Homo sapiens: one gene and its partners. The protein of the gene in region 1 purifies or fractionates together with the protein of each later gene. This does not show direct contact. Each region holds a gene or a part of one and is shown on either strand. Other genes may lie near its edges.

Region 1 (4,401 bases):
ATGTGTATATATGTATATGTGTGTGTATATATGTATATATGTGTGTGTGTATATATATGTATTTATGTATACATATATTATTCTAAATAGGAAGAAATAGAGACTTTCTCTTTTCATTATTATTACCTTAATAAATCCTTCACTGGAAGAAATAGGGGTTTTCTTCCCTATTAGTGGAAAATGTCAGATCTCTGCTCAAATGTCACCTTCTTAGGCCTTTCCTGACTCACCTATTTAAAAGTGCAATCTTCTCCATCCTCACCACCCACTCTTCCTAGCCTTGCTTAATTTTTTTCAACATGCCGTCATTCTCGCTCTCTGATACACACACCCCTACACATGTAAGAAAAAAATATATAAAATACATACACAAATATGTAAGAATAAACACCCACACGCATATTATTTTACAATTTATTATTTATCTTCACTAGAATATAAGTCTCATGAGGACAAAAATTTATGTCTGTTTTGTTCACGGCTGTACCCTCAGCACTTAAAACACATAGCAGGCACTATGTGTTGGATGAACAAATAACTAAACAGAAATAGGCCGGGTGTGGCGGCTCACGCCTGTTATCCCAGCACTTTGGGAGGCTGAGGCAGGCAGATTACCTGAGGTCAGGAGTTCAAAACCAGCCTGGCCAACATGGCGAAACCCTGTCTCTGCTAAAATAAAATACAAAAATTAGCCAGGTGTGGTGACACACACCTGTAATCCCAGCTACTCAGGAGGCTGAGGCAGGAGAATCACTTGAAGCCGGGAGGTGGAGGTTATAGTGAGCTGAGATCGTGCCACTGCACTCCAGCCTGGGCAAAAGACCGAGACCCCATCTCAAAAAAAAAAAAAAGAAAAAAAAAAGAGAAAGAGAAATAGATTTTTTTTTTGTTTCCCTTACCCTAGTCTTATCTTTTCCCACAAAAATTGGACCCTCAAGTTTCTTCGCTCCCTCAAGTTCATTGAGGCTAAATTGGGTTTAGGCTTTAAAGGTCCAGATTAGGCCTATAGTTTTTTCCACTTTACTTTTTAGGGGACCACTTGGAAGGGAGGGAGAACTAAGGAAATAAATGTAGCCTGGGCAACATGGCAAAACCCCATCTCTACACAAAAAAATTACAAAAATTAGCAGGGCATGGTGGCACATGCCTGTAGTCCCAGCTATTTGGGAGGCCAAGGTAAGAGGATCACTTGAGCCCAGGAGGTGGAGGTTGCAGTGAGTTAAAATCGTGCCACTGCACTCCAGCCTGGGCAACAGAGCGAGGAAAAAAAAGAAAAGGAAATAGACATAATTCCAGCATTTCCCCGATTCTTTCTGGAATATTCTTTTTTTTTTTTTTTGAGACAGAGTTTTGCTCTTGTTGCCCAGGCTAAAGTACAATGGCACGATCACGGCTCACCGCAACCTCCGCCTCCAGAGTTCAAGCAATTCTCCTGCCTCAGCCTCCCGAGTAGCTGGGATTACAGGCATGCGCCACCATGTCCGGCTAATTTTTGTATTTTTAGTAGAGACAGGGTTTCTCCACGTTGGTCAGGCTGGTCTCGAACTCCTAACCGCAAGTGATCCAATTGCCTCGGCCTCCCAAAGTGCTGGGATTACAGGCATGAGCCACCGCGCCCGGCCTAAAGCATTCTTGTATCAGGCATCTGTGCAGCTCACTGCTTCACTTATCGTGAGCCCCGAACCTCACTGGATGAGGGAAATATTTCCTGTCTGCCCCAAGTAAGATAATGTCCCCATCACCCTTCCTTAATTTTCTTCATGGAGCTTATTATCCTGACATATATTTATTATCTTTCTTTGATCACTAGACAAGCTTAATAAAACAGCAACTTTGTCTGTTTTGTTCACTGCTATAGTTCCACGTCCTAGAACTATGCGGCATGTAGTAAGCGTTCAGTGAACAAAAGAGTCAGTGAATTCAAAACAGCCTCCACAGATTAGAAAGAGAGGATTGAGGCCTGGTGCGGTGGCTCATGCCTGTAATCCCAGCACTTTGGGAGGCTGAGGTAGGCAGATCACCTGAGGTCAGGAGTTCGAGACCAGCCTGGCCAACATGGTGAAACCCTGTCTCTACTAAAAATTCAAAACTTAGCCTGGCATGGTGGCAGGTGCCTGTAATCCCAGCTACCTGGGAGGCTGAGGCAGGAGAATAGCTTGAACCTCGGAGGCGGAGGCTGCAGTGAGCTGAGATTGTGCTACTGCACTCCATTCTGGGTGACAGAGTGAGACTCCATCTCAAAAAAAAAAAAAAAAAAAAGGATTGAGTCAAGATGATTACATATATCAGGGATAAATGTAAATTTCTATTTGGACTCAAAAACCTATTTATAGTCAATAACCTCACTTGATGAGTCAAAAATGACTTAGGAATTTAGGCAACCACAATCTTGGACTATAATTAGTATAATGCCTACTGTTTTCCCTTCTATTAGAGGTATCCTCTCCTATCCTCTCCAACCAATCCATGGCTTTTTCTTCCCTCCAAACCTAGATGAAGGGTTTATCTTCTCTAGAAAGCCTATGAGCATCATGAGCACAATACTATGAGCATAATGTCCAGATTACATGAGAGGCAGGTATAATTTCATCTGCACTGGTCATAATATACATGTAATATTGTGTATAGCAGTGACAATAATAAAATTGCTATTTTTTGTGTAAATTTATATGTCCCTGCCAGGCATTGTGGTAGAGCTTACTTTTTTTATTTCTTTTGAGACAGCGTCTCATTTTATTGCCTAGGCTGGAGTGCAGTGGCACAAGCTTGGCCCACTGCAACCTCCACCACCTGGGCTCAAGTGATCCTCCTGCCTCAGCCTCCTGAGTAGCTGGGACTACAGGCACATGCCATCACACCTGGCTAATTTTCGTATTTTTTGCAGAGATGGAATTTCACCATGTCACTCAGGCTGGAGTGCAGTGGCATGCATGATCGCAGCTTACTGAAGCTTTGACCTCCCCAGTTCAAATGATCTTCTTGCCTCAGCCTCCTGAGGAACTAGGACTACAGGCATGTGCCATCATGCCTGGTTAATTTTTTTTTTTTTTGAGATGGAGTCTTGCTTTGCCCAGACTTGAGTGCAATGGCGCGATCTCGGCTCACTGCAACCTCTGCCTCCCTGGTTCAAGTGATTCTCCTGCCTCAGCTTCCTGAGTAGCTGGGATTACCAGCACATGCCACTACACCTGGCCAGTTTTTGTATTTTTAGTAGAGACGGGGTTTCACCATATTGGCCACGCTGGTCTCGAACTCCTGACCTCAAGTGATCTGCCAGCCTTGGCCCCCCAAAGTGCTAGGATTACAGGCATGAGCCACCATGCCCAGCTAATTTTTAAATTTTTTTTAGAGATGAGTCTTCACTATATTGCCCAGGTGGTCTTGAACTCCTGGGCTCAAGCAATTCTGCTTTAGTCTCCACCAAATTGCTGGGATTACAGGTGCAAGCCACCATGCCTAACCAAGGAAGAGTTACATTTTATTTAAAATATATATTTATTGTTATTATTTTTTTAGAGACGTGGTCTCACTCTGTGGCCCAGGCTGGAGTGCAGTGGTGCAATCACAGCTCACTGCAGCCTTGAACTCCTGGGCTCAAGCAATCTTACTACCCTAGACTCCTGAATAGCTGGGACTACAGGACCATGCCACTATGCCTGGCTAATTAAAAAAAATTTTTTTTAGAGACAAGGTGCTATGTTGCCCAGTCTGGTTTTGAATTCCTGGCCTCAAGATCCTCTTGCCTCAGTCTCTTGAGTCGCTGGAATTATAAGCACGACCCACTGTACCCGGGTACATTTTAAAATAATATAGATAAGGAGCAAAACATTATTAACAAAATAAATCAAGGTGACCATGTCTATATCCATACCGAATAATAATAGTGTTTAGTCTCAAAGTATTAAATGAAATAGCTTTTAGGGAAAGTTTTCACAAAATGGAGACAGCCTTGGTAGTAAGCTACTTGAAGGCAGGCAGGAACAATATCCTATGGATCTTTGAATCCCTCAAGAGTCTCTTGCTTCTAATAGGAGTTCAGTAAATATTTGGTTGAACAACTAATTGGATTCAGTTGCCATTAAGAATGGGCACAGCCTAAGGAAGTGGCTCTCCATTCATCAATCAGGTGCTTTCCTGCAAATTGTTTGCTACTCATTAGTGAAACTGAACACTGTCTCTATGAGAAGAGGAACACAGCAAACTACCAAGACAGGCATATTTTTTGGAATGATCATAAAGAGAGATCTGAAGGCTTAGATTAGGAGACACCTGGGCAATTCTTTTGGCTCTATCATAGATTTATTCCCTGCAGCAGTGCGGTGGAGGAGCGGGGGGCAACCCACTGCTGCTTACATATTTACAATGCATCAACTTTTATTGTTAGAAAATGGAGATAGGGTA
Region 2 (4,401 bases), on another chromosome or scaffold:
CACTCACCTCAGATCAGCTCACCTTTCCTCCTCTGACCCTGCCCTGCATTGGCCCAGGCTGTGTGCTGTGCCTGGCATGCCCTTCCTGTCTTCTCTCTCCTCACCTCACTGTCGTGTGGGGGCAGCTGGTGCAGCAGCTGCTTGATCCTGTATTTCTCCCCAGGACTGTTGACGTAGGGGACCTTGTCCTCTGGGAGGCAGCTGAAAAATTGATATACCTGGGAGGACATAGGAGTGGGAGAAAACAACTGAAATGAGAGGTGAGTTGGGATGCAGTGAGATGGCGGGTCCCCATTTCTCAGAAAATGAAAGGCATTAGGAGGGACCTTCTGACTCCCTCATCTCTCCTTCCTAAAGGCGGATCATTTCCCTCAGCTCCCAGCTCCCAAACACGCTGAGGGTTCCTGCATGTATTGACCTCACTTCCTCCTCCAGCTGCTGATCACCTTTTTTTTTTTTTTTTTTTTTTGAGACGGAATCTTTCTCTGTTGCCCAAGCTGGAGTGGCGCGATCTAGGCTCACTGCAACCTCCGCCTCCTGGGTTCAAGCGATTCTCCTGCCTCAGCCTCCTGAGTAGCTGGGATTACAGGCATACCACTATGCCCAGCTAATTTTTTATTTTTAGTAGAGACAGGGTTTCACCATGTTGGCCAGGCTGGTCTCGAACTCCTGACCTCAAGTGATCCGCCTGCCTTGGCCTCCCAAAGTGCTGGGATTACAGGTGTGAGCCACCGCGCCCAGTCTACTGATCCACTTTTCTTTTTCCCTTTACAGGAAAATTCCTCAAAAAGTTATGAGCACTTGTGTTCACTCCACTTCCTGTCCTTCCAATCTCTCTTGAGCCTACTTGAGGCAGGCTTCCGCTCCCATCCCTCTTCCAAAGCTGTCAAGGTCATCCATGACTTCCCCATTGTTAAAATCATTGTTCAGGTCTCAGTCGTCATCAGACTTGATGATGGTAGCACTGCACCGAGCTGACCACTCTCTCTTCCTGGAAACACTTTCTTCCCTTGGCTTCCAGGACACCACACAGTCCAGGTTTTCCTTCCACCTTATTGGCTGCTCCTTCTTTGTCCCTGTTTTGGCTCCTCCTCAACTAGCTGACCCCTAAATGCAGGAGGATCCTAGGACTCAGCTCTTGGTCCTCTTGCCTCTGTCTACATTCAATTTCTTGGGAATTACATTCAACCTTATGGCTGTAAATATCATCTACTTGGCTGGCTAATGTGTCACCTCCAGCCTGTGACACATAATGACAAACACATACGTCCAGCTCTGTAACTTATCCCTTGAGTTCCAGGCAATGTGGCTATTTAGATGTCTAACAGGCATCTCAAACTCCAGATGGCCACAACCAAACTTATGCTCTTACCCCTCAAACTGCTCCTGTCTTGGCCTCTCCCACATCAGTTAATCTACCTATCCTCAGGGTCATCTTTCACTCCTCTTTCTCCCACCCCCACAAGCAAATCCTCTGAGTGCTACTTCCAAAATATAGGCTGGGTGCTGTGGATCACACCTGTAATCCCAGCACTTTAGGAGGCCCAGAGGGGAAGATAGCTTGAGCCCAGGAGTCCAAGACCACCCTGGGCAACATGGCAAAACCCCATCTCTACAAAAAATACAAAAATCATCCAGGCGTGATGATGCGTGCCTGTAGTCCCAGCTACTTGGGAGGCTGAGGTGGGAGGATCACTTGAGCTCAGGAAGTTGAGGCTGCAGTGAGCTGTGATTGAGCCACTGCACTCAAACCTGGGAGACAGAGTGAGACCCCCCCCCATATATATATATGTGTGTGTGTATATATATATATATATATACACGTATAATTATTATACGTATATTATTTACGTAAATTATATACGTAAAATAATTATTTTATATATATGTATATAGATGTATACATATGTGTATATATATGTGTATATATACGTATATATGTGTATATATATACGTATATGTGTATATATATACACGTATATATACGTATATATATACGCGTGTATCTATATACGTATATATATATGTGTATATATATATACACACACATATATATATATTAAATAATTATTTATTAAACGGAATTTTGCTCTTGTTGCCCAGGCTGCAGTGCAATGGCATGATCTGGGCTCACCGAAACCTCCGCCTCCCGGGTTCAAGCGCTTCTCCTGCTTCAGCCTTCCAAGTAGCTGGGATTACAGGCATGTGCCACCACGCCTGGCTAATTTTTTTGTATTTTTAGTAGAGACGGGGTTTCTCCATGTTGGTCAGGCTGGTCTCAAACTCCCGACCTCAGGCGATCTGCCTGCCTAGGCTTCCCAAAGTGGTGGGATTACAGGCGTGAACCACTGCACCCAGCCTATTTTTTTTTTTTTTGAGACAGGGTCTTGCTCTGTCGCCCAGGCTGGAGTGCAGTGGTGCAATCTCAGCTCACTGCAACCTCTGCCTCCTGGGTTCAAGGAATTCTTGTGGCTCAGCCTCCCGAGTAGCTGGGATTACAGACATTTGCCACCATGCCAGACTAATTTTTGTATTTTTAGTAGAGATGGGGTTTCACTATGTTGGCCAGGCTGGTCTCAAACTCCTGACCTCAAGTGATCCACTCGCCTCGGCCTCCCAAAGTGCTGGGATTACAGGTGTGAGCCACCATGCCGGCCTTTCTGTCTGTCTGTCTGTCTCTCTCTCCATATATATATAACTCCTTGCACTGCCAGTGCCATCATCATCAGGTTCCTCACTGGTCTCCTGATTCCACCCTTATTCCTCCAGGCTGTCTTCTGCTGACAACCCTCTTGCGACTTCCCTTCATTCACAGGCAAAGCCAAAGTCCTCTCCATAGCCCCTGCCACATCTCTGACCTCATCTCCAGCTGGTCTCCCCCTTGCTCACTCTGCGCCAGCAGCACTGGCCTTGCCATCCCTTACATATGCCAAGCACACGCCTGCCTCAGGGCCTTGGCATTAGCCATGCCCTTTGCCTGTGTGAATCGCTGTAACCTTAGATGTCTGCATGGCTCACTTCTCACCTCCTTTCGGGCAGCTCAACCATTAAATTCTCACAGAGGCTTATTCTGGGCACCCTATTTACAATTCTAGCATCTCTCTCCTTCCCTCTCTCTTTCTTCACCCCACCTTCCTTGCTTTTTAATTCCATAGCCCTTACACCATCTGACATATATTTACAGGTTTGCTTATTGGGTGTTCCTCCTTTCCAGAATCTACCCTCTGCCTGGGCAGATTTTTTTTTTTTTTTTTTTGAGAAGTATCACTCTGTTGCCCAGGCTGGAGTGCAGTGGCACGATCTCAGCTCACTGCAACCTCCGCTTCCTGGGTTCAAACAATTCTCCTGCCTCAGCCTCCTGAGTAGCTAGGATTACAGGTGTGCACCACCACACCTGGCTAATTTTTGTACTTTTAGTAGAGACGGGGTTTTGCCATGTTGGCCAGGTTGGTCTCAAACTCCTGACCTCAAGTAATCCGCCCGCCTCAGCCTCCCGAAGTGCTGGGATTACAGGCGTGAGCCACCGTGCCCGTGGGCAGATATGTTATTTTGTGTTTTGCTCATTGCTGTGTCCTCAGTGCCTAGAACAGTGTCTCACATGCAGTAGGTGCCCCATAACTATGTGTTGAATGAGTCAATCAATGAAGTCATGTGGTGAATGAAGTGCTGGGAGGGTAGAATAGGGAGTGGGGCCACGCATGGTGGCTTGCTCTTGTAATCCCAGCACTTTGGGAGGCCGAGGCAGGATCACTTGAGCCCAGGAGTTCAACATCAGCCTGGGCAACATAGGGAGACCCTGTCTCTACAAAAAAATTTTAAAAATAGCCAGGCAGGGTGGCATGCACCTGCAGTCCCAGCTACAAGGGAGGCTGTGGTGGGCAACAGAGTGAGACCCTGTCTCAAAAACAATCAATCAAAAATAATAGGATTGGGGTGAACAGGCCCTGAGGAACTGGTCCCTCAGTCACCCAAGGTATGGGGGGCTGACCACTCTTCCATCACAGAGGGGCCAGAAGGACCCTCGGTCTGACTGCACACTCTAGCGTAGCCCCAGAAATAGGTTCCCACCTGAGTGTGTGTGTGTGTGTGTGAGCATTAGTGTGCACCCACTGGACAGCAAGAGTGGAGGGCTGGCCTCTGGTCACCTGCTCCGGCTTAAGGCCTGGGGGCACCCAGGCATACTCCTCCGATGCACAGCCTGAGTCGTCGTCGGAGATGGAGTGGCGCTGGAAGTCCGAGATTAGCCGACACATGATGCGTTCCAGGTCCACAGGCACCGCGTGCACTGCATGCTCCTCCCGCGGGCATTTGCAATGCTGGCAGATCTTTCTGAGGGGGCCGGGATGGGGGTCAATTACTAAGGAGTTGCCCACCCGAACCCCTCGGCAGCCCAGGTCCAAT
Region 3 (3,500 bases), on another chromosome or scaffold:
TATTTCTCCCACTTTTAGCACAGACTGGCCACTCAGCTCTCCTAGCCCAATGGATGCACCATCAGTTAAAATACGCAGAATGGATCCTTTCGCTACAAAAGAACATATTGAAATCATAGCTCCTTCACCACAAAGAAGCAGGTCTTTTTCAGTAGGGATTTCCTGTGACCAGACAAGTTCATCTGAGAGCCAGTTCTCACCACTGGAATTCTCAGGAATGGACCATGAGGACATCAGTGAGTCAGTGGATGCAGCATACAACCTCCAGGACAGTTGCCTTACAGACTGTGATGTGGAAGATGGGACTATGGATGGCAATGATGAGGGGCACTCCTTTGAACTTTGTCCTTCTGAAGCTTCTCCTTATGTAAGGTCAAGGGAGAGAACCTCCTCTTCAATAGTATTTGAAGATTCTGGCTGTGATAATGCTTCCAGTAAAGAAGAGCCGAAAACTAATCGATTGCATATTGGCAACCATTGTGCTAATAAACTAACTGCTTTCAAGCCCACCAGTAGCAAATCTTCTTCTGAAGCTACATTGTCTATTTCTCCTCCAAGACCAACCACTTTAAGTTTAGATCTCACTAAAAACACCACAGAAAAACTCCAGCCCAGTTCACCAAAGGTGTATCTTTACATTCAAATGCAGCTGTGCAGAAAAGAAAACCTCAAAGACTGGATGAATGGACGATGTACCATAGAGGAGAGAGAGAGGAGCGTGTGTCTGCACATCTTCCTGCAGATCGCAGAGGCAGTGGAGTTTCTTCACAGTAAAGGACTGATGCACAGGGACCTCAAGGTCTGTATTTGTGGAGCATCACCCTTGGGGTTTCAATCTGACGTTTTGTGATTCAGAGCAGTACTTGCAGTACTCTGAAGGATCCTTAAGAGTTGGGGAGAGTAAAAGCATCTGAGAGCAGAGGTCTGAGAAAGTAGCCTCGAAGGGGCCTGCTGCAAGAATAAGAAGTCTTATGTCTGAAAACTTTAGGCAAACCATGCATTCATTGTCTTCAGTAATGTGTTTGTGTTCATTTTACTGTAAAAGGTATTCTCAGTAGTCCAGGTGAGGGAAAAAAAAGAAAAAAGAATCTTTAGGTAAAATCCACCATGAGCAGATATAGCCTGTTTTTTTGTTTGTTTGTTTGTTTTTGTTTTTCTATGGTTTTGAGTAACCCTGACACCAATACCTCCAGGGCTCTGAAGCAGCATGGTGAAAGGGATCCGAATGGAAGGAGAGACATGGGTTCCTTCATTAGCCAGCTTGAATTGGGGCAAATCTCCACACTTTTGCTTCTTTTTCTGAACTGTTTAGACTTTGGGGGAAGGGGTAAGAAGCCGAATGGGGAAAGGTAGCAAATAGTTAACAGATGACTGTTTACAGCTCTAAAACCTTGGATTCTATTTTCAATATATTCAGTAGTGAATTTTGCAGTAATATAATATGCAAAATTATTAAAGAGTCTTACTAAAACATGACATTTCCGTAGTAGTGTTTCTAAAAATAAGTACATGGAACTTTTATTTAACTAATTTCCCACATTCCATATACTCTTAGCCATCACCAGTAGATGTGGAGTGAATGTATAAATACTTTTCTGATGAAAGTAGCTTAAAGTCTTGATAGATGTGGATCCATTTTAAGTCTTTTCAGACTTAAAACAGACTTGTTTCAGGCACAAAAGTAGCTATTTGGACACAAGTTATTTTCTTCTAAAATCAGCAGTAGGTTTTCAAATTCTTGGGTATATTTTAAGAGTTTTAGGGTAACAAGAATAGGAATTAGAAATAATTCTTATTTTTTAATATAATTGTTATTTAGTCATATAAATCATTATGCTTCAGTGATTTTGACGTGGGCCCAAACTGATTGCCAAGAATTGTTCTGCACTGAATGAAAAGTTCAGAGATGAATTATTTGGTTGGATTGGAGAAGACAGTTTACAGGAGACCACACACCCCTAATTTGAGAGAATACTAGCAGTTAGGTTTGAATATAGTAAACGCTTATCACTAGGTGGGAAACAGCTAGCTGAAATACACATTCTTCTTGTACTTAACACTTGCTGTACACACAAATGCCAACTTGAAAGACAATGAATCATGTTTTCACTAATAATGAATATTCTTCTGCTAATTTTATAATGTAAATGAGATATTGGTAAATATCCATTTAATGCTACAATGTTGTCTAAAGATTTTTCTGTAATTGTCTATGCACCAGAAAAATTGCAAGAAGAAAGTTAATATTCCTGTTAGTTTTTCTAGAAATCAGAAAGTTTTATTCCTTTCTAAATAGAAGACAATTCCTTTTAAAGATTTCTAGTGCGCCACCCCCAACCAAAAAAAAAAAAAAAGCCAAGATTTTTGTTCCTGGGTGAAAAAGCTGTACATTTTGCTACGTTCTGACCTAAATCTTTGAGCTCAATGTTAAACCTTCTAGGCCCTCTCCCCCTGTTATATTTTGGTCACATTTTTGTCTTCAGGACTTTGGCTCCTGCCTCTTCAGACTAACTTCTAGTCTTCTATTTTCTCCACTCTGAACTTTTCTCAGTTCCTCTTGATATACACTGTTCTGACAGAAACCTGGTCCTTCTTCATTATTCTCATCACACCTGGATTATTTATTCTGTGGTTTCTATGGGGTATGAACCATATCTGTTTCTTTTACCTGTTATAGTCTCAGTACAATGCCTGAATGTTCTAGATGGTCATACCATTTATTTTGAATTTTATTTTCTTTGCACTCAAAAGTGTTTATACTGACTTAACCAGAAAAGGAAATCTGTTGGCCCACATGGCTAAACTGTTGAGAATTCAGGTAAAGCTTTAGCTGAGATCAAGTGATTTAGCCAGAACCTGGTTTCTGTCCTCCCCATTTCTTGTTTCTATTTAAGTCTTTTGGAGTTGGTGGGGTAGAGGGTGGAGAGAAAAGTATTGCTTTTTCCCACTATCAGAAATTTTATTCTACTTAAACCAAGGACACCTACCCATCCCTCAACAATCCCTAGCCAGGCAATGGGATTCCATGGATTGGCGTAAGCAACTTTTAGAGCATGGATGCCTTCCACACTAACCGTGGGGTTTTGCTGCACAGTCAGCAAGAAGGAAGTTCCCAAAGTAAAGTCAAGATACTTCTGCTGGAAGCACAGGGAGATAGATACTGGAGAGCCAAAAAGCTTGTCTATTATAGGGTTCAGTAAATAACAACTGCCATCAGATGTTGGGAGTTGGGAAGAAAGATGACATTTAATGCAGGATAGTCTATTATTGCCTCTGGTACAAAGTTATTTATTGGAGAGCTGCAGATTATTACCATAGATCTTATACACAATAACTTCATGCTTCCAAGTCAAAATCGTTTAATGGTATTTTAGAGTTTGGGAATGCAATGTTATTTTCTGGCAGTATTTGAAACATGATGAAATTCAATTTCATGAGCTAAATGGCTTCCTTTTTCCTCATTTCAAGGGCTATGAATGGTGGTCATATTACCCGCAGAG
Region 4 (4,925 bases), on another chromosome or scaffold:
CCCCATTCTCCTGCCTCAGCCTTCCGAGTAGCTGGGACTACAGGCGCCTGCCACCACGCCCGGCTAATTTTTTGTATTTTTAGTAGAACAGGGTTTCACCGTGTTAGCCAGGATGGTCTCGATCTCCTGACCTCGTGATCCGCCCACCTCAGCCTCCCAAAGTGCTGGGATTACAGGCGTCAGCCACCGCACCCGGCCTCTTTTCTGATATTTATGACCCAGAAGTTCTCTGTACCTTTCCACTGATTTATGTAAATACTGTAAATTATTTCCTTAAACAAATTTCAGGTAGACTAAAATATCAGTCCTATACATTATCCTTTCCAAAACACATTCACTAATGGTGTCTAGGCAGACACTCAAAAGAGAACAATATATCTAACAATTTGAATAAATAAAACATCTTTTCTATTAATAGAACTGCAGTTCCAATATAACAAAATATTTGGGTAAAATGATTATATTTAACCACTTTCCTTTAAGGTATTTGTTTCACTTAAGTCTACAGATATCAGCTAGACTTCCCAAAACAGAATTTGAAAACAAATGGAGAAAGCATGAATTATATAAAAAAAATTAATCTCCAATACAGCAAATAATGTTCCACTATTTACATAACTAGCTGATTCTGAATATGACAGAAACATGAAAAAGGAAACAAATGAAAATGTTCTGGTCATCCTTACCGAAAGAGAAAACTAACCTGAACTCGCCGTTCTTCTTTGTTTGCATCTACCTTATCAGACATCAGAAGAGGCTCGCTTTTCTCACAGCTCTCTTCACTAAGGAGCGTGTCTGCGTAGTTGGGCTGGGGAAAGATCAGGTGACTCTTCCTCGAGTCCGCGGTGAGGGAGACCTCGTGGGAATAGGTCTGCAGGAAAGCCCGAACCCCATCCACGCCCACAAAGTGCGAGGCGGGCACACCCGCCAACCTGCTGCCTTCAGCCTGAAGCAGGCGTGACTTGTGCCAGCGCCTCAGTCTGAGCACCAGCAGCACGATGACGAAGGCCAGGAAGACGCAGGAGACTGCAGCCACTGCCACCACAAGATAGAGTGTGAGGTCCAGATCCTCAGGGTCAATGGGGGTCTTGATACTGCCTAGGTCAGCCAGGATGTCAGGGATCCTGTCGGCCACGGCAACGGTGACCGTGAAGGTGGCTGACAGAGGGGGCTGGCCATGGTCTTCGACGGCCACCACGAGGCTCTGCTTGAGCGCGTCTCTGTCCAGCAGGGCTCGCGCTGTGCGCACCTCGCCCGTGTGCAGCCCAACCGCAAAGAGTCCTGGCTCGCTGGCCTTAAGCAGGCGGTAGGACAGCCAGGCGTTCTGGCCTGAATCTTTGTCCACCGCTACCACCTTGGTCACCAGGTAGCCAGGTTCTGCGGAGCGAGGCGCCAGCTCCACGCCCGTGGAACCGTCTGTGGGGAGGGCGGGGTACAGGATCTCAGGCGTATTGTCGTTCTGGTCCAGCACAAACAGGCTCAGCGACACGTTGCTGCTAAGTGGAGGGTTCCCACTGTCGCTGGCTGTCACCCACAACTGTAGGTCTCTCAACTGCTCATAGTCGAAGGATCTCAGAGCATACAGGACACCGGTGTCAGAGTTAATGGATACATAGGAGGACAAGGGCGCCCCCTGAAATGTGTCTTCAGCCAGGGAGTAGGTGACTCGAGCGTTGTCGCCGCTGTCGGGGTCATGGGCTGTCACAGAGAAGATAGAGACACCTCTGGGATTGTTTTCTGTGACAGAGGTGGAGTAGGAGGCTTGAGGGAAATTGGGTGGGTTGTCATTAACGTCTGCTACTTTCAAGGGGATGTGGCTTTCTGTAGAGAGGGGCGGGGTTCCATGGTCCATGACGGTTAAAGTGATATTATAATCTGAAGTCTCTTCTCTGTCCAGGTCCCTAGTTGTTAATAGGTGATAGTAATTATCAACTGACTTCTCCAATTTAAAAGGCAAATTCCTAGGAATAGAGCATGCAATCTCACCATTTTCTCCAGAATCACCATCATGTACGCTAAACAGCGCGATTACAGTTCCGGGAAGACAGTCTTCAGAGATCGAACTGGTCAGAGAGGTGAGGATCACTTCGGGGGCATTGTCATTCACGTCCTGTACTGTGACCACCACCTTAGCGCTGGCAACAAGAGCGCCTCCATCCTGAGCTACCACTTCCATGAGGTAGAATCTGGATTCTTCATAGTCCAGTGATTGTAGAGTTGAGATTTCCCCCAGGTTGGAATCAAGTTGGAAAGTCTCCGAAATTTTTTCTTCTTCATTGCGAAAAGAGTAGGTCAATTTCCCGTTTATTCCCTCATCTGGATCCGTGGCGGTTAGCATGAGCAGCCGAGTGCCCACAGGTATGTTCTCTGGAACACTCACGCTGTACTCGGATGGGGTGAACAGGGGCGCATTGTCGTTTGCGTCGAGGACCGTAACACGGATGTGCGTGGTGCCGGAGAGTACCGGGTCTCCGCCATCTAAAGCTGTGAGGAGGAGGTCGTGAACAGTCTCTTTCTCGCGGTCTAGGGGCTGTTCCAACACCAGCTCCGGATACTTTTGTCCATCAGTTCCGCTTACCACATCCAGAGAGAAGTGCAGATTGGAGCTGAGCTGGTAACTCCGGAGAGAGTTCACACCCACATCCGCATCCCGCGCGAAGGGAAGCACTAACCGTGTCCCTGCAGCCGCATTTTCATTAACTTTTACTTTTAACTCTTCATCCCGGAAACGCGGGAAGTTATCATTAATATCGATTATTTCTACTTCTACTCCATAAATTTTCATTTTGTTCTCAACCAAGATGTTAAAGTTCACCACACACAGTGGGCTCTGAGCGCAGAGCTCCTCCCGGTCTATCCTGCCCGCGGTGACCAAGCTGCCGCTTCGCGGGTTCAGGGCAAAAAGCTGCGTCCTACCTCTGGAGACGATGCGGACTCCGCGCTCCGCCAGCTCCTGGGGCTCCAGCCCAAGGTCCTTGGCTATGTTGCCGACGAAGGAGCCTTTGTCCAGCTCCTCCGGCATCGAGTAGCGGATCTGCCCGGATCCTGGCTCGCACAGCGTCCCCAGGAGCATGAAGGGCAGCAGCAGCTCTCCGCAGCCCCAGCCCCTAGGTGGACTCGCCATTGCCTTCTCTCTGCCCAATTTTCTCTTAGTTCTGGTTCAGCCTGCTGTTTCCTTATTTATCTAAAGCCGATGGGTACATATTCCCTGACGAAAATGGGCGTGGAGCGTTGGCTTTTCGTAGGAGCTTGTCTGGTCTGTGTGTTTAGTATGGAGGGAGCAGAGTCGGGTCGCCTCTGCGGCAGCTTCTTTCCCACTTTGGTCAACAGCGACACTCAGAGTCCTAACCAGTGACTGCATCAAATTCCATTTTTATTTCTCCTAAGTTTAGTTATAATTTTATTTCTAATAATGTTGCCATATCCTTAATGTTTAACTGTGTAGCGTTGTTTATGACCGTTAATTCAGCTTTAATTCTGAATAGCAAGACTTCCACAATCCCTGAGATCAATATGATTATTAGATCTCAATACCTTACAAAAATTTTATTTAATGCGTCATCGGGGGAGCCTATGTCCTTTATTTACCTCTTATCTATATTTAGTCCATTAAATTAGGACATTCAAATTCTTACCTTTGTAGGATTCAAGATTTCATCTCCTTATTAGGATAAATTTAGGAAAACGTGCTTATTTGCATATAAGAATACCAAGGAAACAAACCCAGTTCTCCATGCACCTTTCCAAACAGGCCTACTGATTTATGTAAGTTATATTAGCTGTCATATGCAGAAGAAATAAAGATCTTTGTTACTTGTGAGGACTTTGAGAAAGTCTCTCCACTATCTCAGACAGCGTTTGAGTTGGGTTAACTATGCATTTTTATGTTTTTCTATTACCATGTTCAAATATTTGTAGTTCCAGTGACAACCAGTATAGTAACTGTGGAGGATGGGGTTTTATTTCATCATCCATGCAGGAAAGCATGAGCAGATACTTGTCGAGAAGTACTGAGTGACCTTTCTATGTTGAGACAGATATTTACTGCTATCATCTTTATATGACAACAGAAATAGAAAAACCTCTTGATTGAAAAAAATGGACATTTCAGAAAGTCATTTTATTTAATAACACTTTCATAGAAAACTAAGAAAATAAAAATTCTATATAATTAGGAAATTCAAAAGCAAAGTTTTAAGTAATATTTTGTAGAAAATGATGTGAACATAGGTTGTAAGATTTTTCTCAATGTGTAGTTTTTCTTAAGAGCAATTTGTTAAAATGCATGTTAGAGAATGATTTCTCACATTTGTTAAATGCACTCTTTCTAGCAGACACCTCAGACCTCAAACATTGCCTGTCCTTTAGAAATACATTTGTGATTCCAAGACATTTAGCTTACTGAGTGTTGGTCTTCAAGTCAATGGGACAATGTCCTACCCATGCCCTGTGATTAACAAGCCATGCCATTATGCAAAAGTCTTTCTTCTTTGTTTCCCAATTTCCAAAGCCTACTAAAATGAAGACTCTCTTTACTCTGAAGTATTATGATTCTAAGAGGAAGTAAAACTAAAATTTGAATAACAAAGAGCCTGAAGGTGAAACTAATTGCCTAAAGTCTCAATAGCAACAAATCTGCAGAGAGAAGTAATGTAAAGATGAGGAAGAAAAAGAAATACAGTGCAATATCTCATGTGATAAAGGTTTGCAATCATGGGTAAATAAATCTCACACTTCAGAGAGAAAACACTTAAAATTCAGTTAGATAAGATTAAGACAATTAAGGCACAACATTGGCCAAATCTAACTCACAGACAAAGAAATACGCAGTGGAACTTCCTACCCAAATTAGGTGAAACAATAAAACCAGAAGTGAAAATAAATTAATTAAAGCTCACCTTCAAAATAGTATCTGAGGCAAAAGG
Region 5 (4,401 bases), on another chromosome or scaffold:
GCCTCAGCCTCCTGAGTAGCTGAGATTACAGGCATGCGCTGCCACTACCATGCCCGGCTAATTTTTTATTTTCAGTAGAGATGGGGTTTCACCATGTTGGCCAGGCTGGTCTTGAACTCCCAACCTCAGGTGATCCACCCACCTCGGCCTGATGTGCTTGATGATCTGAGGTGGAACAGTTTCATCCCAAAATCATATCTCCCCTACTTCCCCTGTGGGAAAATTATCTTCCACGAAACCAGTCCCTGATGTCAAAAAGATTGGGGACCACTGCCCTAGATCACCATGGTAGGTACTCAACATGCATATGTTTAGTTTGCAGTCTGGAAATGGGACTTCTAACTACATGTATTAAAATTCTGGTTTAGTGAAATTCTACAATTTTATTTCTACCACTTTTGTATACAGTTCTAACAAAATATGGTTAATGCAAATTTATTTGTAACCCCAATATCAACATTCATGGTACCTTCCTGCTCACTGACAGCCATGCACAGAATAGTGAAACATCTGAAACACCCACCACATGCATTCCCAACTGAGGTCAAACAAGGCAACACCCTGCCTTCTTGTTTCAGCTGGCATACTGTAAACAAGTTATCCTTTCTGCAGTATATTTAGTGTCATGCTTTTCATTGATGATTTTGCTGTATAAAATGGTCCCCCACAAGTAGTGCTGAAGTGCTGTCTAGAGTTCCTAAGTGCAAGAAGATAGTGATATGCCTCACAGAGAAAATACATGTTAGAGAAGCTTAGTTCAGGCATGAGTTAATAGTGCTGCTGTCAGTAAAGTTCAATGTTAATGAACCAACAATATATATTAAATAAGGTGTCTTTAAACAGAAACAAAGCCAGGCATGGTAGCTCAGGCCTGTAATCCCAGCCCTTTGGGAGGCCAAGGCAGGAGGATAATTTGAGCCCAGGAATTTGAGACCAGCCTGGGCAACAAGTGAGACCCCATCTCTACAAAAAATTTAAACATTAGCCGGGTATGGTGGCATGTGCGTGTGATCCTAGCCACTTGGGAGGCTGACAAAGGAGGATTCCTTGAGCCCAGGAGTTTCAGGCTGCAGTGAGCTATGATGTTTTTGGCTTTTTTTTTTTTTTTTTTTGACGGAGTCTCACTCCGTTGCCTAGGCTGGAGTGCAGTGGCGCAGTCTCCGCTCACTGCAACCTCTGCCTCCCAGGTTCAAGTGATTCTCCTGCCTCAGCCTCCTGAGTAGCTGGGATTACAGGCACACCACCACACCTGGCTAATTTTTGTATTTTTAATAGAGACGGGGTTTCAGCATGTTTGTCAGGCTGGTCTCGAACTCCTGACCTCATGATCCACCTGCCTCGGCCTCCCAAAGTGCTGGCATTACAGGCGTGAGCCACTGTGCCTGGCCTATGATACACTCTCGTACTATACAGCCTGGGTGACAGAGCAGGACACTGTCTCAAAAAAATAAAAATTAAAAATAAAAATAAACAGAAACACATGAAACAGGCCAGGTTCAGTGGCTCATACCCGTAATCTCAGCAGGTGAAGCCCAGGTGAGTGGATTGCTTGAGCCCAGGAGTTCAAGACCAGCCTGGGCAACATGTCGAAACCCTGTCTCTACCAAAAAGTAAATAAATACAAAAATTAGCCAGGTGTGGTGGTGTACACCTGAGGTCTCAGCTACTCAGGAGGCTGAGGTGGGAGGATTGCTTGAGCCTGGGAGGCAGAAACTGCAGTGAGTGAGATCATGTCACTGGACTCTAACCTGGGCAACAGAGCAAGACCCTGTCTCAAAAAAAGAAAAAAAAAGAAACACATAAAATAAGGTTATGTATTGACAGGTTGAAAAAGTGACCAGAGGCTCGCAGGAACCTAGCCCTGTATTTCCCCTAGGAGCAATGGTTGAAGATTTGGTAATTCAGTTCTACAATTCAACTTTATGGAACTACCACAAATAACAAGACTGTATTAGCCCCATTTTACAGATAAAACAATGAAGCTGATAGAGAGGTGAAGTGGCAGCTCCAGGCACACTATGGCACAGCATCCTGTTTTATTTTCTTCACAGCACTCATGGACTGATAATTGTGTTTACTTATTTATTTTCAGTCTAAGCCATTGCAATTATAAGTTCCATAATAGAGATTTAGGGACTTTTGTTCATCTTGTTCTCTGTTATTTCCCCATGCCAAAAACTGTTCCAGGCACATACCCAATCCAATGAATAAAGAAATCTCCTATATGTTAACTGTGTAAATATTAGGTGTGATGTTATGGTTTAAAGGGAAAGGCAGTTACTTTCATTATGCTAAATTCAAAATATTTAGGGAGACAAATGCAGGCTTAAGACTGGGTGGACACTAAAGAAAACCAAAAAGCCCAGAGTTGCCTAAAGTGGCACTGTCTCTGAACCCTAGAGAGCAGATAAAGATTGCCTGGGATGGAAACTTCACAGCTAAACCAAAGTATGGCAACTCTACAGAGTAAAGGAAAGAAAGATACTCTCTGAAATCATATTTTTGCTTAGCACACCATTTCTCCATAACAGAGGAGAGAGAGCAGACATGGACAGAAATGGTGCCTCTGAAGCCAAAGCTCAAGTTAAACCTGCATGAGAGTGAAAAACTGAGAACAGAAACTCAGAGCAGGTATCTGAACCTGGCCATGAGGCAGTGCCTGCAGAGTGAGAGAAATGTAAGTTGGACTTAAAAGGTTCCCGCATTCCCAGTCCAAGTGGAACTGATGGGCTGTGGCTGCCTGCAGTTATGTCCAGCATCAGAAGCACTGGTGAGAAAGGACTCTAGGATTCCCTTTTTATGAATACAGAGAGGAAAATGAGATTAAGACCCTCTTACACCAACTCCTACAACAACAGCTAACACAAGAACTGAAGACAAACAGGCGAGATCCCAGAATTAATGTTCACTGCTACTCTGAGCAAAAATTGAACAGTAAACAATAGAGATTTCAAAATTATAAAGAGCCACTTCAGTATTCTAATTTAACCTTCAAAAATTAAGATGACCTAAAGCACCACGAACTGATAATTCCATTCCACCTCAACACCCTGTGCTCCTCAGCTATTATGAGAACAGACTGCAACCCAATTCAACTCATGTTCCAAAATGCAACAAGCAGCTTCAACAGGACATGCTGGAAGAAGCAGCACGTCTCATCGTTTACTGATTCATATTTTGGTAGCAAGGTTACAATTAGCTCACCGGTGGAGAATAAACCTATTTATAACACAGCAGTCCACCTGAAAGACATAATCATCTAAAAAGGTTCTTAGAGGAAAATAAGTGCAGGTTCTTCCTGTACTGATTGCAGATTCCCAAGGTCCTTTTGGATAAAGTCCTCAGTCTAACCTTCCTGTGTTCACAGTCACCATTCTGGCCACTTCTCAGCCTCCATGTTCTTATGTAACATTTACATAGTGCCATAAACATACCCAGAGTTGCGTAAGAATTAAAACGTTGCCAAACCAATAAAGCCTAAAGCAGGTCACTCCCTCCAGACTGTCTTTGATTAGCACAGGTATGCTGCCTAGTCGACGATGTAAGAGCCTGCCAGAGACAGAAATTAACTTGAGGAAATCTGAAAGGGGTCTACAAAAAAGCACAAAAAGAAAACCACACTGTGACATGCTGTACGTCTATCAATCACAGAGTATGTTTTTCTGCTCCTTAAGATAAAAAAGTAACCCAGCATTGCTTATTCACTGAAGTCAGAAACTGTGTCTAAAAATACCTCCCCGCCAACTGGCTATCAGTAAGTCAGTCTCACAAATGTCCCAATAAGAGTGACACAAAATATTTCCTTATTTTTACAGAGGGAAAACTGAGGCAGTCACAGAAAGGTTAAGTTACTTGTTCAAGGACAACTTGTAAGGCAGCTAAGTTCTAGGGCTGAAAACCAGCCTCCTCCCTCCATCTGGCTTTAACCTTTAACCAGAGTAGCCATTTTAATATGTTTTATCACATCTGTTCCAGGAGCTGTTTAAACAAAACTAATCAGAGGTCTCTACAAGACTGCACTTCCACTGTACTTAAAATCCATGTCCACTCAACAAAATTACAAGGCTTGGCTTGAAATTAGATTTTTAGTCCGCTCACAAAATTTCAAAATGTTCCTATGAGAATGTCAAATATCTCTCTTGTTGCTTTTGTCTTGAGAAATGAATGTCATGTTCTCCTGCTACTAACTCAATTTTACATTTTTAAATGTGAAAATTCCAAAGCCAGGCCTTAAAACATGTACACCTATCAAACGGATGCTATTTCTAACTGAAACTCATTCTCCTTATCACTGGCCTTTTACTAAGTCCTAGTTAATTCATTAATTAATAGAAACACCTATCCCTTACTGCCCCTCACATCAAGTCCAAGTATCAGGCATCAGAGCTGTCTGGCTCTGTC
Region 6 (4,401 bases), on another chromosome or scaffold:
CCTCATTTTGTAAAGCCACAAGTTTCCTTCCCATGGCAACTCATTAATCTATTAATCCTCTATCCATTAATCCCACCTCTCAATACTGCCACATTAGGGATTAAATTTAAACATGAGTTTTGGAAGGGACAGATATGCAAACCATAGCACATGTGTGTGCTATGGAAGACATATGCATGGAAAACATCCAGAAAGTAAGTGGTTCTCAAAAAAAGGTGCTTTCAATTCAAGTTTACATAGCAAATTCAACTAAGAGCAATAAATTTCTAGAGAAGTGACATGGCAAAGGAAAAGGACTTTGAGTCTCTGGTGGCAGCAACTTGTGAGAAGGCAAATAAATGGGAGATAAAGACCAGTTGGTAAAGCTTGTTCATATAGTTTCCTCTGGGATCATCTCCACATAATAAGAATCTGAAGTTATCTTCACTGATCAACCTTTGTTCTCACTGGGAAAAGGTGGGCAGGATGACTTTTGTCTTTGTGAATCTGTGTTTTGCTTTTAGGCAGATAGAGGGAGGGCGGAGAACTTTCCTGAATCTGCTTCTTCTTAAATTGCCTTCACTCAATAATCCTTCATATTTTGGGGGGTGGCATCTTCTGGTTTCCCTCAGTATTAGTCTACTCATCCTGCTCTCAGAGTAATTCTCAGGTCCTTCTTAGCCTGTAGGAGGAGGACTTGCAGGGAGGGGAAATCTGTACCTTTTTTTTTTTCTTTTTTTTGATACAAGGTCTTACTCTGTCACCCAGGGTGGAGCATGATCTCAGCTCACTGCATCCTACACCTCCTGGGCTCAAGCCATCCTACTGCTTCAGCCTCCTGAGTAGCTGGTACTACAGGCACACACCACCATGCCTGGCCAATTTTTGTATTTTTTGTAGAGACAAGGTTTTGTCATGTTGCTTAGGCTAGTCTTGAACTTCTGGGCTCAAGCCATCTGCCTGCCTCAGCCTCCCAAAGTGCTGGGATGACAGGTGTGAGCCAGCTATATTGTGGTTTTGCTTCATAATCCATACCCATTGTTTAATCAGTAAAATTGATTGATTATGGAAACAACAGCCTGTCTACAGAGCATCTTGAGCGTATATGTGGTTCAGCAGGTAGAATCTGTAACTGAGCAGATAGAAAGTAGTATCTGGATTTTTTGTTTGTTTGTTTGTTTTTTTGAGACAGTCTCGCTCTATAGCCTAGGCTCGAATGCTCAGGCATGATCATGGCTCACTACAGCCTTGATCTCCCTGGCTCAAGCAATCCTCTTACCTCAGCCTCCAGAGTAGCTAGGACTACAGGCATGCCACCATGCCCAGGTTTTTGTTTTTGTTTTAATTTTTATTATTTGTAGAGACAGAGTCTTACTCTGTTGCCCAGGTGGAATTCTTTATGATCATAATGACTCTTCACTCCAGGGTTTCCCTTTAGTTGTGGTATTTGTATAATCTTTGGTTTGATTGTGAATTTCTATGTAATCTAGCAGCTGTTTTTTGCTATGTCACACCTGCATGCACCTGAGTCTGTGTTCATGGAGTTGGGCATGAGTAGTGTGTTGTGTGAAGGAGGTCAAACATTACTGAGGTGGGTGGCTTAAGGTAGTATATACCAAGTTATGTTTCCTAATTTGAAGATAATCATGCAGGAAAATTTATTATAGGGAAGAGGATGATATGGTGCGGTGAAAAAATGGGGAATTAGGAATCAAAAGGTTTGAGTTCCCACTGCACTGCTGACTTGCTTTCTGATCCTAACAAGTTTCTAACTCCTCCAAGCCTCCATTCATCAGATGATATACAGAAACGCTCTTTCAGGGGGTTGCAAGGATCTAATTAGAGGCTATTGAAGACTCTTTGTACACTGTAAAATGCTATTCAGATATTATTTATTTTAATAAACAGTGATTGCTTTATGTCAGGCTCTTTAACAAAAATTCTTACAATTCAGACCTCCTATCAACACTGCAAAGCAGGCATTATTATCGCCATTAGTCAATAAGGCACCTGGCATACAGAGAGTAACTAAGTAACTTGCTCACCTACTACTTTTAAGTGATGATTCCCAATTTAAGTTCCAGCTGCTTTTTTGCTATGTTGTCGTGCTGTTAATAAAGGATAAATGGTAGAGGTTTGAACTTTAACAACAACTTGGATTATGCTTCTAAAAAAATGGAAGTGGTGCTCTAGACTAGGAGTCAGGAGGTTCAGACTGTTACTATATTTTTCTATTATTTTGGGGTAAGTTACTTAAATTAATTTCATTAAATACGTTTAAAACACTTGGCTATGTTTCTGCTAAGGTTTACATGTAAAATGCTTTCTTATTTTAATCATTTTCAGAATTTAAAAAATTTCCTTCGAAGGGATCAAAAGTATTTTATGAATCTGTTTTAATATTTTTTTTTCTTTTTTTAAAGTCATTCCTACACTGGCCAAGATTACAGTACCCAGGGAAATGTTGGGAAGATTTCTTTAGATCAGATTGATTTGGTAAGTAGAACATTATTTTAAACTTAGAACTTTATCAATGGAGGGAACATAGATTTTCTTAAATCAAAGACTTTTGGGTGAGGAGATAGAATATTATTTCACTGCTTGCTGATTAATTTTAAAGAAAATCCCATGTCCCACTTAGATGATTTTAAAAAAAATCATAAGAAAATCATTTAATCAGAAAATTATCTGTACTTTTATGAAAACAGAATTTAATCAACTATTCCAAACAGGAATTCTTTTAAATAGCTAAATGGAGTTTGTGTTTACATTTAAATAGTGTATACATTTAATAAAGGGGAAATGGAAAACACTAAGTGTATTAGTTTGTTAGGGTTGTCATGACAACGGAAATTTATTTTCTCACAGTCTAGAGGCTCGAAATCCAAGATCAAAGGGATAGTAGGTTTGATTTCTTCCAGGGCCTTTCTTGTCTCACAGATAGCTGCCTTCTCCTTGTGTTCTCCTGTGGTTTTCCCACTGCTTGCATACATCCCTGGTGTCTCTTCTTTTTGTAAGGACACTGAGTATGTGAGACCAGGGCCCCACCCCCATGGCCTCCTTTAATCTTAATGAGTTCTTTAAAGGCCCCATCTCTAAATATAGTCACATTTGGAGCTACTAGAGGTCAGGACTTGATATATGAATTTCAGGGGGAGAGGACAATTCATCATCCAGTGTAGGCTACGAGATTAATAGATAGCTTATTTTAGCATCATTTGACTTTGTGGTTCCATAGGGTAGCGTACTTTGCCATACTTGTAGAATTTCTCTTTAATACATAACAGCATTTGCACTCCATACACAAAGGGAAAATAAGCCAGCCATAAATAATCTTGGGTTAGACAACTACCAAATTATTCACAATAAATTAAAAATACACAGGGATTTTAATGCTTGGAAACAAGAACTGTAATAAGACTAGTAGAGAAAGAACGTGAGTTTGGATCAGAATGAATAGGTCGTCTTCCATTTGAAAAATTATAAAAAAGTACTTGCAGTTAATATGTCTAGAAATAACAGTAGGGTTGCCTACTTTACACAGTTGATTTGTTGATTTGAAATTTGTTCTCAAAGATGTCCCATCTTTTAATTTTTTTATTAAACACTTATCTCTAACAGTCCACTTTCTCACTTCCACTCATGTGATTTGTGCTTATATAATGTGAATGGTTGGAGGTTAATTCTGTTCTTAGTTCTAGCTAGATGTTTCCCTATTCACAAGCAAATGTGAATTTCATTGGATACTGTTGGAGTTCATAGAAATATTAATTCATTTAATGGATATGTATTGAGCCCATCAGTTATGTAGCAGCCATTGTGCTGTGGATACAGAAGTGAGGAAAACAGAAAATGTCCCTGCCTTCATGGACCTTACATGAGGGAGAGGGACAACATAATAAATAATAAATGAGCAATATAATGTTAAGTGCTATGATGATGATCCTGTCATGGGTCTGTGCCTGAGACCCCGTGGTGAGTAATACAGATGTATCTTTTTCTGGACTGCCTCCTAACTCTGTATCTATATTGTTTGATCTTCACAACAGCATGTCATTTGCATATCCCTTGGTATTTGCAACTCTTCTCCAAATGTTTTCTTTAGTTTTTTCTTCTAACAAATCTGGCTTTCTCAATGCTGTTTCCGCTGTGGGCCTCTTCAAGTAGAGACAACTTTCCCCCCGAGTTCATATATAGGTATGCGGTGAGTGTCTTTCTTGGTCCGCATTTCTCTGCCTTCCATTGTTACAGCTCCAGCTCCTTTAAAGCCCTTGTGATCTTATTATATCATCTGATACCTCCTTTGTTGCTATTCGACCCCCTCCCCCCACACCTGTATTCGTTGATGATTTGAACACCTAGCTAATGGTCTTGTGTACTGGCGCTATTGTTGTTATTGTTCTTGGCCTCTGCAAGATCCAA
Region 7 (4,401 bases), on another chromosome or scaffold:
TAGAAGCTGATTGGTGAAGCTGCCTGACCCAGGAGGGGCTAAGGCACTAGACGGAGGGAGACGTGGGTCCCTAAGCTCTAGGTCCCATCCTGGAAATTCATGTTGAAACCCAGAAGGACAGTGTCAGGCCAGGGTCTCTCGGCCAGGCATATCCAGAACAGGAAGCTCAGCCACTGTGGGGTCCTCTGAGGGGAATGAGGAAAAGGCTGTGTGTTGCGGGGAGCAAAGCAGGGATGGGTGTTAGAGATAGAATGTAAAGAAGAGAGAGAAAGAGATGGGAGAGGCAGAGAAAGGTAAACAGGAAGAGTGAACAGTGGGAGAGGCAGAGCCAGGGAGGGAGAAGATGGGAAGAGAGAGGCAGAAACTTGGTAGGGTCTGCCCTGGGCAAGTGGTGAAGGCCCCTGTAAGTGCCAGAGGCAGGGGGATGGGGGTACCCAGGCAGGGTCCCCTCCCCCAGGGAGACACTTTGGTGCAGAGAGGGGCCAGGTCAGGAAGCTGTCAAGGAAACGCTGGTCCCCACCTGCAGAAACGGCCGTGGGAACAGGGAGCAGAGGGACACACACGGCAGTGGGACGGGAGGAGCAGAAAAGAGGATTGCGGGGGTAAGGGAGGCTTCAGGCGAGCGCGCTGTCTGCGAGGTGGCCCGGGCACAGGGCTTGGTGCACGGTGGGTTTTTAGACAGAACTGGAGAAGGGATGGCAAGAGGGAGAAAGAGGAACAGAAGGAGGAGGAAGACCACACCAGAATTACCTGATCAAGTGATAGCTGTGAGATGCCAGAGTGCAGCAGAGAGAGGGGGAGGGGGAGAGAGGAGGGACATGCGCCGATCAGAGCAGGATGGGACAGAGAGAGAACATCAGTCAAGAATAAAATCCCAGCCCCTTGGTTCCTGGCTGGGTGGGGGCCCCAGGCTGGCCCTAGACCCTCCCTGGGACCAACCACACCTCCCCACTGCGAGCACACCCCAGCTATCTTGCTGAGGGCTGGTGGGAACCCATGCCCTGGCTAACAGATGAGCAGGCCAGCCCGGTGAGGAGCTGAAATTCACCTAAGCCCACATAGCCACCCAAGGCAGAGCTTGGCTCTGGGATCCCAGCTGCATGTTCATTCCAGAAGTCACCCAGCCTCTGTCTGAGGGAGGATGGGGCCACCGGAGTCCGTCCTTCTTCCCTGGTCAGGCCTGCTCCTGGCTGAGGCCCAGGGCTCAGGAGAGGGTTCACCTGGCTGGGGTGGGGGCTGGGCCTGCTGCAGGGTAGGGACAGCCACGGAAGTGGTCAGATCCTACTCACTTCTGGAGCACGAAGATGCCCACGATGAGGGTGAAGGAGACCAGGTCGGCAGTGACCCACATGAGACAGTACTCGTCCGGGGGCTGTGGACAGACGGCCCGAGGCCAACTTCCAGTCATGGCCAGTCCAGACTGAGGCTCCAGACTGAGGGTCCGTGGACCAAAGGACCCCACATGGCCACTGGGGAAGGGCAAGGGAGGACCCTGAGAGGGTCTGGGGGCTGAAGATGACATTTTGCAGGTGTAGGCTCCAGGCGCTGTGGGCCTGGGGGCCGGGGCGTGTGTGTGCACACGTGTGCACTCTCAGGGTAGGAGGGGACTGTATGGTGCTCAGGGCAGAGGGGTTGTGTGCTAGGCCTGCAGGGTCTGTGTGTCTAGGGTCCTCAAAGCAGGAGCCAGATACTGAAAGACAATGGCTTTGCCGCCCCCCGCTGCCGACTCTCATCCATCGGTCTCGACCCTTTCCCCAGGCTGCCTTCCCTTCACCCTCCTCTCCCATAGAACCATCCACAGCTTAGGTCTGATTCATTGGCACTGCATTCTCTCAGCCATAAGGATACCCTCCACCTGCCTTCTGCATGCTCAGGGTGACAGTGGAGCCACCACCTATCTGCAGGTGCCCAGTCAACCAGCTAAAATATTGCTTTATTTGCTGTTCTCTGAGCAGATTTTAATTGTTTCCTATTCTTTTTTATTTTTATTTTTTGAGACAGGATCTCACTTTGTCATCCAGGCTGGAGTGATCACAGCTCACTGCAGCTTTGACCTGCTGGGCTCAAGCAATCCTCCCACTTCAGCCTACCGAGTAGCTAGGACTACAGGCGTGTGCCACCTTGGCCAGCAAATTAATTAATTATTATTATTTTTTTTTGTAGAGACAGGGTTGCCCAGGTTAGTCTTGTACCCCTGGGCTCCAGTGATCATCCTGCCTCTGCTTCCCAAAATGCTGGGATTATAGGCGTGAGCCCCACGCCCGGTCAATGCTTCCTATTCCTGTCCTTGTTACCCTCCAAAGCAAAGAAACCCAAGCAGCTCTTTACTTCTTTAGAGCCCTTAGTGATGCTTTTCTCCCTGTGGATGAGGCCCAGGGTCCTCCCAGCACCTTAGTGCAGATCCCAGATGCCATGAAACCCTCATGCCTCAAGCCTGCACGCCCACCATGGACTCCCCACCATGCTAGAGACCTCCCAGGGACAGCTCCAAGCACAGAGCTTGCCGAGTGGTCAGGGCAGGCTATAGGCAGCTCCAGCACTGCCCCCCAGGGGCCCTCTGCCCCCCAACTCACCATGATCCAGAGGGGGGAAGGCACCTGGGACAGGGCGTGGGAGTTGTCAGAGGTGACGGATGGGACCCCCGCACACCACAGCAGGGAGAAGAGCCACGGTGCGTTGACTGTGTAGAGGTTCACACTCAGGTTCCAGGACGCGTAGTCCCTGTGGGGCAGGGGAGAGGCAGGTCAGCATGCGGACCCTGGCAGCTCCAGGCCCAGTGTCGGGGCTGGTAAAGCACGTCCTGTTCACGACCTCACAGCCATGCCCGGGGCAAGGAACATTGGCTCCAGAGGGCCAAGCTCCGGGACAAGCCCGGGTCTGCCCGACACGCTCACCCTCTTGTCTTTGAACCATGTGTGCCTGATTCCTCTGTGTGCCCATCCCTCTGCCCGACCGTGTGTGTGTGTGTGTGTGTGTGTGTTGGGGGGTGGTGGTGGCAGGACTGGGAGAGACTCAGTCCCACCCTCTCCTGGAGGAGCCCAGGGCAGGGCAGGCACCTGAGCTCCTGGCGGGACACCTGAGTGTAGCGCAGGTTCAGCCGCTGGATGTGGCCTCTCCGCAGGCTGGCGACTGCCTCCTTGGAGCCTGATGTCTGTTGGAAGCCGGGAGCCACCTTCCGCACCAGGGGCCTCTGCCTGCTAGGCAGCCACATGACCTGCAGGCAGAAGAGAGGCAGCCTCAGACTTCTCTTCTGCACGATGCGTAAGAGTACCTACTCCTCCTAGAGCACCTGTGGGGTTAAGAGACAGGACCTGGCAGGCGGTGAAAGCTTAGATGAAGTCATTAGCAGGGCAGGACTCAGTCCCAGCCAAGGCTGCAAAGTGCACTGGCAGCAACTCAGGAAACTTCGCTTCTGGCCTGCTGTCAGTACGGGAGGGAAAACCCAAACAGCCACTACTCTGCACATGGCCACTAGCACCTAGTGTGCCGTCCTAAACTGATGTCAGATTTCTCTGGTCCCAGATTATTACACCAAACGACAGGGCAACACTTCACTGAAATAACTTGACCGCCTGGACCTTTATACATTTTAAAGTGTTTTCTTGTTCCCCTCTTGTCCCATGATGACCCTGCCAGGGAAGTGAGCAGTGTGTGATCCCCATTTTACAAATGGGAAAGCTGAAGTCCGGAGTGCAACAGGGAAAGGCTATGCAGCAGCAGGGCTCTAGCCAGGCCAGGGCTCCCGGGGGCAGAGCTGCGTTGCAGGGCCTCACCTGGTGCTGGGGGAAGCCGGAGTGCAGCACGGCCTCCAGAGTCACGTTGATAAAACTGCTGCGGTAGGGGTGCTCCCGGGGCGGGTCACGCAGGTTGAGCAGCAGTGTGGCATTGCCCTTGGCCAGCTCCAGGAGCTCTGCCAGGCTGCAGATGGACTGGTTCTGGGCCTCTCTGTGGTCGGAGGGTGACAGGGAGCTGGCTGTCCAGAAGGGGTCAGTCTGGCAGGGACAGGGACACACACATGGCTGCATCATCAGCCCTTTGGGGGCCCCCACATACCCTTCTGGCAACCAAGCGTGGAGACCCCTGGGCTGCCAGAGTCTGCTGGGGTCAGGCAGATTGATGGCTGTGGCCATGTGGAGGCTGTAGGAGGCCCCAGCCCTAACCTTTCTACCCCACACCCTGCTTACCAAGAGGACGGAGGACGGCTTGCTTGGAATCGCTCCCAGACCCACAGCATTTCTCCTTCTAGAGCATTTCAGATCAGAGAGCCAACCCCTCTCTAGAGTTTTACAGAGTTAAGAATTCTATTCACTGCTCTCATCCCTGTCAACCTTTTCTAGTGAGGGAAATGGACCCAGAACAAGCAGTGACAACCATGAGTCTGGCAGCAGTGGCAGGAGCCTA

Evidence for each region.
Region 2: the proteins of SYT11 (region 1) and PRICKLE3 purify together in Homo sapiens (co-immunoprecipitation; one large-scale study listed by IntAct). This does not show direct contact.
Region 3: the proteins of SYT11 (region 1) and EIF2AK3 purify together in Homo sapiens (co-immunoprecipitation; one large-scale study listed by IntAct). This does not show direct contact.
Region 4: the proteins of SYT11 (region 1) and PCDHGA5 purify together in Homo sapiens (co-immunoprecipitation; one large-scale study listed by IntAct). This does not show direct contact.
Region 5: the proteins of SYT11 (region 1) and ACVR1B purify together in Homo sapiens (affinity purification with mass spectrometry; one large-scale study listed by BioGRID and IntAct). This does not show direct contact.
Region 6: the proteins of SYT11 (region 1) and PRIM2 purify together in Homo sapiens (co-immunoprecipitation; one large-scale study listed by IntAct). This does not show direct contact.
Region 7: the proteins of SYT11 (region 1) and GDPD5 purify together in Homo sapiens (co-immunoprecipitation; one large-scale study listed by IntAct). This does not show direct contact.

What each region holds. Positions count from the first base shown.
Region 1 is NC_000001.11:155,862,567-155,866,967, reverse strand, and holds part of SYT11 (synaptotagmin-11), read right to left. Parts: intron 1-4,401. UniProt on the Homo sapiens protein: Synaptotagmin family member involved in vesicular and membrane trafficking which does not bind Ca(2+). Inhibits clathrin-mediated and bulk endocytosis, functions to ensure precision in vesicle retrieval.
Region 2 is NC_000023.11:49,179,589-49,183,989, forward strand, and holds part of PRICKLE3 (prickle planar cell polarity protein 3), read right to left. Parts: intron 4,330-4,401; coding exon 4,146-4,329; intron 219-4,145; coding exon 105-218; intron 1-104. UniProt on the Homo sapiens protein: Involved in the planar cell polarity (PCP) pathway that is essential for the polarization of epithelial cells during morphogenetic processes, including gastrulation and neurulation.
Region 3 is NC_000002.12:88,571,965-88,575,464, reverse strand, and holds part of EIF2AK3 (eukaryotic translation initiation factor 2-alpha kinase 3 isoform 1 precursor), read left to right. Parts: exon of another isoform or gene 1-18; coding exon 19-799; exon of another isoform or gene 800-951; intron 952-3,500. UniProt on the Homo sapiens protein: Metabolic-stress sensing protein kinase that phosphorylates the alpha subunit of eukaryotic translation initiation factor 2 (EIF2S1/eIF-2-alpha) in response to various stress, such as unfolded protein response (UPR).
Region 4 is NC_000005.10:141,362,530-141,367,454, reverse strand, and holds the start of PCDHGA5 (protocadherin gamma-A5 isoform 1 precursor), read right to left. Parts: upstream 3,294-4,925; 5' UTR 3,125-3,293; coding exon 704-3,124; coding exon of another isoform or gene 683-703; exon of another isoform or gene 1-682. Other genes in the region: PCDHGB2 (protocadherin gamma-B2 isoform 1 precursor), read right to left, coding at 4,899-4,925. UniProt on the Homo sapiens protein: Potential calcium-dependent cell-adhesion protein. May be involved in the establishment and maintenance of specific neuronal connections in the brain.
Region 5 is NC_000012.12:51,954,153-51,958,553, reverse strand, and holds part of ACVR1B (activin receptor type-1B isoform a precursor), read right to left. Parts: intron 1-4,401. UniProt on the Homo sapiens protein: Transmembrane serine/threonine kinase activin type-1 receptor forming an activin receptor complex with activin receptor type-2 (ACVR2A or ACVR2B).
Region 6 is NC_000006.12:57,530,009-57,534,409, forward strand, and holds part of PRIM2 (DNA primase large subunit), read left to right. Parts: intron 1-2,402; coding exon 2,403-2,475; intron 2,476-4,401. UniProt on the Homo sapiens protein: Regulatory subunit of the DNA primase complex and component of the DNA polymerase alpha complex (also known as the alpha DNA polymerase-primase complex) which play an essential role in the initiation of DNA synthesis.
Region 7 is NC_000011.10:75,438,590-75,442,990, forward strand, and holds part of GDPD5 (glycerophosphodiester phosphodiesterase domain-containing protein 5), read right to left. Parts: intron 3,993-4,401; coding exon 3,774-3,992; intron 3,215-3,773; coding exon 3,057-3,214; intron 2,722-3,056; coding exon 2,574-2,721; intron 1,373-2,573; coding exon 1,290-1,372; intron 1-1,289. UniProt on the Homo sapiens protein: Glycerophosphodiester phosphodiesterase that promotes neurite formation and drives spinal motor neuron differentiation.